2 separate regions of the Homo sapiens genome follow, and region 1 is linked to region 2. The links come from fine-mapping of genetic effects on gene expression. A gene starts in region 2. The other region holds a variant in brackets. All regions are shown on one strand. Distances are from middle to middle. Region 1 has its middle 14 kb from the start of LINC01849. Region 2 holds the start of PDCL3 (phosducin like 3).

Region 1 (3,016 bases), 27 kb before region 2:
TTAATCAATAACGCGTTTTTTAATTAGGGTATGTACTTTTTTTACACACACTTAATAGTCTACAGTAATCATATAATGTAAACATATTTGTCATACATACTGAGAAAACTGAAACTTTGTGTGACTTGCTTTATTGCAATATTGAGTCTGGAACTGAGCCTGCAATATCTCTCTTATGCCTGTATTTTACCTTTTAAAAAATGTATGCACAAGAGGGATATGTAACAAAAATCTACATTCCATTTTGTCCAAGCAAGATCTTTTAAACATATAAAATAGAACCAAGGGAGCAGGGTGAAGAAGAAGAGGCGAGAACGACCCCCCCCGACCGACCAAGCCCACGGGCCGCTGCATCCCACGCCCAGCGCCTACGTCCTGCCACCGTCGCTGCCGATACCACCATGCCCAAGAGAAAAGCTGAAGGGGATGCTAAAGGAGACAAACCCAAGGTGAAGGACGAACCACAGAGAAGATCTGCGAGGTTGTCTGCTAAACCTGCTCCTCCAAAGCCAGAGCCCAAGCCTAAAAAGGCCTCTGCAAAGAAGAAAGAGAAGGTACCCAAGGGAAAAAGGGAAAAGCTGATGCTGCCAAGGAGGGGAATAACCCTGCAGAAAGTGGAGATGCCAAGACAGAGCAGGCACAGAAAGCTGAAGGTGCTGGAGAGGCCAAGTGAAGTGTGTGCATTTTTTTTTTTTTTTTTTTGAGATGGAGTCTCGCTCTGTCGCCCAGGCTGGAGTGCAGTGGCGCAATCTCGGCTCACTGCAAGCTCCGCCTCCCGGGTTCACACCATTCTCCTGCCTCAGCCTCCTGAGTAGCTGGAACTACAGGCACCCGCCACCGCGCCCGGCTAATTTTTTGTATTTTTAGTAGAGACGGGGTTTCACCGTGTTAGCCAAGATGGTCTCGATCTCCTGACCTCGTGATCCGCCCGCCTCGGCCTCCCAAAGTGCTGGGATTACAGGCGTGAGCCACCGTGCCCAGCCCATGTGTGTGCATTTTTGATAACTATGTACTTCTGGTGACTGTACAGTTTGAAATACTATTTTTTACCATGTTTTATAAAAATGCAGAATTTTGTTTTACTTTTTTTTTTTAAGCTATGTTGTTAGAACACAGAACACTTCATTGTTGTTTTGGGAGGACGGGGCATGTGTCACTAATAGAA[A/T]GTCTCCGAAGCTGGATCGATGTGGGGAAAACACCTTTCCCTTCCAGTTTTGAGAGACTTCCTCTTGGCTCCCAGGAGGAGGGATTCCCTGACTTTGACACACATGACCACCTTGGCACAAAAGCCTTGTGGTATGGAAAACAAATTCGTTTTTATGTCCTCTTCTCCCTTTCCATCTTTCAGCAGAAAATTAACTCCCTTAAACCCAGACATCTGCTGGGACCTGACCCTCAATCATTGGTTACCAGTGTGTCAGGCAATCTGGACTTTCCAGTGATGCCACTGAGATGGCACCTGTCAAAAGAGCAGTGGTTCCATTTCTAGATTGTGGATCTTCAGATAAATTCTACCATTTTCATTTCACTTTCTGAAAGTCAGGGTCGGCTTGTGAAAAGTTGTTAAACAACATGCTAAATGTGAAATGTCAACCCTCACTCCAAACTTTCCCTATTCAGAGCATGAGATGAAGACTTCATTGGGTTTTATAGTGGCTTTCTGATTTCTGGTAGTCCATTGAAGAAGAGAGTTTGAAAGTTGTTGTATACTGTTAACGATTGTCTGCCCATGTCCTGCCTGAAATACCATGATTGTTTATGGAAAGTATCTTTAATAAAGCTGCATACAGTTTGGCTTGGGAAAAAAAAAAAATAGAACCAAACTCTGTGCAAGTTCAGACTCATGCTGCACCACCAGCATCCACACTGGGTCATCTGTGAAGTCCTTCTCCAAGGCACACAGACAGTTGCTCAGCCTTTGCGTAAGGACAGCCCGGAAGTGGAGGGCAGTTCACTCCCCTGGGGCACCCTCAAGTGGTGGAGGCCAGGGTTGGGTGATAAAGCAAGATCCTCTCTGTGGGTGGACAACTCTGGGAGGTCATCTACATGCTTCTTAGAGGTTTCAAAGGGATTGAGTTTCCGCTGCCACCAGCCCTGACCTCACATTCCCACCCTTCTGTCAGCTTTTCCCTTTCCCTGCCTCTGTCTCTCAAAGCTCTCATGCCTTCATCTTTGTTTTTTCTGTTTTGTTTTGTTTTGAGAGACGGAGTCTTGCTCTGTTACTCAGGCTGGAGTGCAGTGGCACAAACTTGGCTCACTGCAACCTGCACCTTCCGGGTTCAAGGGATTCTCCTGCCTCAGCTTCCCAAGTAGCTGAAACTACGGATGTGCACCACCACACCCAGATAATTTTTGTACTTTTTAGTAGAGACGGAATTTCACTCTATGTTGGCCAGGCTCGTCTAGAATTTCTGACCTCAGGTCATCCGCCTGCCTTAGCCTCTCAAAATGCTGGGGTTACAGGCGTGAGCCACCACACCCAACCACATGCCTGCATCTTTGGATCTCCTCTCGAACAAACTGTACCCAAGTCCCCGCTCAGGCTCTGCATCTGGGCAGACCCAAACTAACACCTATGTGTCCCTTTAGTTCTGGCACTTTACTATAGACACATGACAATCAAGAACTGAGTACCACCTTTCTTACAGGATTACAATTTCCTTTTTTTTTTTTTTTTTTTGAGACAGAGTCTCTCTTTGTCAGCCAGGCTGGAGTGCAGAGGTGTGATCTCACTTCATTGCAACCTCCGCCGCCTGGATTCAAGCAATTATCCTAACTCAATCTCCCAAGTAGCTGGGATTACAGGTGTATTCCGCCGTACCTGGCTATTTTTTGTATTTTTAGTAGAGACAGGGTTTCACCATGTTGGCCAGGCTGGTCTTGAACTCCTGACCTCAAGTGATCCGCCTACCTCAGCCTCCCAAAGTGCTGGGATTACAGGGGTGAGCCACCGTGCCTGGCACAATTTCCATTTTGATGTGATTCATGAACTGCCATATTTTAAAATAAATTTAAT
Region 2 (2,500 bases):
GCTTGCAGTGAGCCGAGGTCGCGCCACTGCACTCCAGCCTGGGCGACAGAGCAAGACTCTGTCTCAAAAAGAAACAAACAAACAAACAAACAAAAAGAGCAGAATCCTTTCTACAGGGTGGTCAGGGAAGGCCTCAAGGGACCTGAAGGACAGGGAATGCAAAGGAGGCCAGGGCAGCCCTCAAGCTACCACTTCACCATTTAAGAGTGTCTAGGCCAGGTGCGGTGGCTCATCCTGTAATCCCAACACTTTGGGAGGCTGAGGCTGGGCAACATAGGGAGACCCCATCTGCACAAAAAATTAGCCCAGAGTGGTGGGTGCACGCCTGTGGTCCCAGCTACTCCGGAGGCTGACAAGGGAGGATGGCTTAGCCCCGGGAGGTCGAGGTTGCAGTGAGCTGTGACAGAGCCACTGCACTCCAGCCTGGGCAACAGAGCAAGACCCGGTCTCAAAAAAAAAAAAAACAGTGTCTGGCTCCTGGCAGACACGCCCTCCCCTCCAGCCCCTAATGCCTCCCTCCCCAGCAAAACCCGCACCCTCTCCTCTCCATCTGCCACTAAGCAGAGATTAGAATTTCTGACCACTGCGGGATCTTTGGACAGTGACAAAATTTAGTTGGCATAGGTTTTCACCCACAATAGTGCCCATTTCCATGGTGTTTTCATTCATTCTCCTTAGGCTTTAACCAAATTCCGCTAGTAAATTGCAGCTACAGAAAAATAATTTATTTTACCTATTTTAATAAAAAAAAAAAAAAGGACGAAACAGAGGGACCCTCGCGGGGAGCTCTGGAACCCGAGCGGTCAGATAGGGAACACGCCCCAAGCGGATCCCAGGGCTCGGGGGAAGAGGGTGTAACTAAGCCCTCACCTGGCTCTCAGTGGAGCCAGGAACACCGGCTGTGGCGCTGCTTTACGTGCGGAAGACCCCAGGCCGGACCCTCCGCTTCCTAACACCTCTGCCCAGGTGTGCCTTAGGGGAGTTCAGGAGAGGAGGTAACTTTTGTTAGGCGGGATCCGGCAAGACCTTCACAGGCCCGGGTGGGTAGAGACCGCGAGAAGACATAGTCCCGGAGGACGAGGTTTGGGGGACCCGGCACACCGAGGCGGGGACGCCCAGGCCGTGGGTCCTGGTGGGACCACGCCCGCCTCCCGCACTGCGCCTGCGCAGGGCCTGGACGCGCCGGGCCTCCCTCGTGCCTGCGGCGCCGGAGCTTCCCCCAGGGCGGGCGTCCACTGCCCGCCCGGGCCTAACGAGACAAAGGAACGGGCCGCAGCCCCCAGACCCGAGACCCGTCCTAGCTCACCTGCATCTTGTTTCCAGTTCAGTTGCTCAAACCAGCTGTGCCGCAGCGCCCCCGCCCCTCAGCTCTCTTTTGTGCACGCGCACAGCGCCGCCACGCCTCTTCCCCCAGCCCAGCCTTCGCCCCGCCCAGGGACGAGCGGCGGGGAGTAAGGGCGGAAGCAACAGCCTTGAGTCTGCGCCTGCTCTTCAAGGAACTGGCACAGAAGCGTTCGCATGCGCCAGATAGGATCTGCCTACTGTCCTGCTCGGAGTGCACTTGACCTGGTTCTAATTCTGGTGGCTGCCTTATTAGGGCTGGTCTTCAGCGGAGGAGGGGTGGGGCTGGGTGGAGGAGGAGCCCGGGGCCGTGTGCCTTTTCCAGCTGCCGGCCCAAACCTGTAAAGACGTCTCGCTCTGACTAGCCTAACAAGTCAGAAATAGAAAATTGCCTCTAGGCCGGGCGCGGTGGCACACGCCTGTGATCCCAGGCCGAGGCGGGCGGATCACTTGAGGTCAGGAGTTCGAGATCAGCCTGGCCAACATGGTGAAACCCCGTCTCTACTAAAAATACAAAAAAATTAGCCGGGCGTAGTGGTGGTTGCCTGTAATCCCAGCTACTCTGGAGGCTGAGGCAGAAGAATTGCTTGAACGGGGGAGGCGGAGCTTGCAGTGAGCTGAGATCTCTCCACTGCACTCCAGCCTGGGTTACAGAGCGAGACTCCGTCTTAAATAAATAAATAAATAAAAATGATGCAGGGTCTTCTGGAATTCACCCACGATCACTTCAGCCTTGGAAAAGGCAACTCATTAATAAGACATTGAGAGCCTGCTGTGTACCAGGCACCATTCTAGGCTCTGCAGATGCAGCAGTGAGCAAAACACTAAAACAAAGGTGAAAGTCATCTGCCGTGCCTGAGTATCAGGAGACCCATGTATGCAGGCACACAGGCACTGAGCAAAAAGCAGCAATCTGACTTGTAAAATGCAGGTATTGGGCTCCAGAGCTTCTGCCCAGGCACACTCCAAGTTTAAGAGAGCAATATTCCTACCTGGTATGGAAGGAAGCATCTTGCACACGTGGGCTAACTTGCTGCCTCCTGGCAACTAAGCGGACACAGAGAGTAGAGACCCACACACCTGTGAGATAGGCGCAGGGCTTCCAACCGTGGCTATGCATTAGAATCACCTGGAAGCCCTCAAAAACTAGGAATGTCCT

Evidence for each region. PIP is the estimated chance that this variant, and not a neighbour inherited with it, causes the effect. A credible set is the group of variants that fine-mapping cannot tell apart.
Region 1: its variant is the best candidate, but not a certain one, in a credible set for the expression of PDCL3 in cerebellum (GTEx, PIP 0.67).

The regions. Positions count from the first base shown.
Region 1 is chr2:100,588,710-100,591,725 of GRCh38, reverse strand. It overlaps the pseudogene HMGN2P22. Among named protein-coding and RNA genes, the nearest start is that of LINC01849, 14 kb to the left of the region's middle. The variant A/T (reference allele first, on the strand shown) is at 1,166.
Region 2 is chr2:100,561,880-100,564,379 of GRCh38, reverse strand. PDCL3 (phosducin like 3) reads right to left here and starts at 1,387. Exons shown (of 6, transcript NM_024065.5): 1 at 1,307-1,387. The coding sequence starts at 1,312. RefSeq lists a silencer at 1,061-1,400 and an enhancer at 1,846-2,500.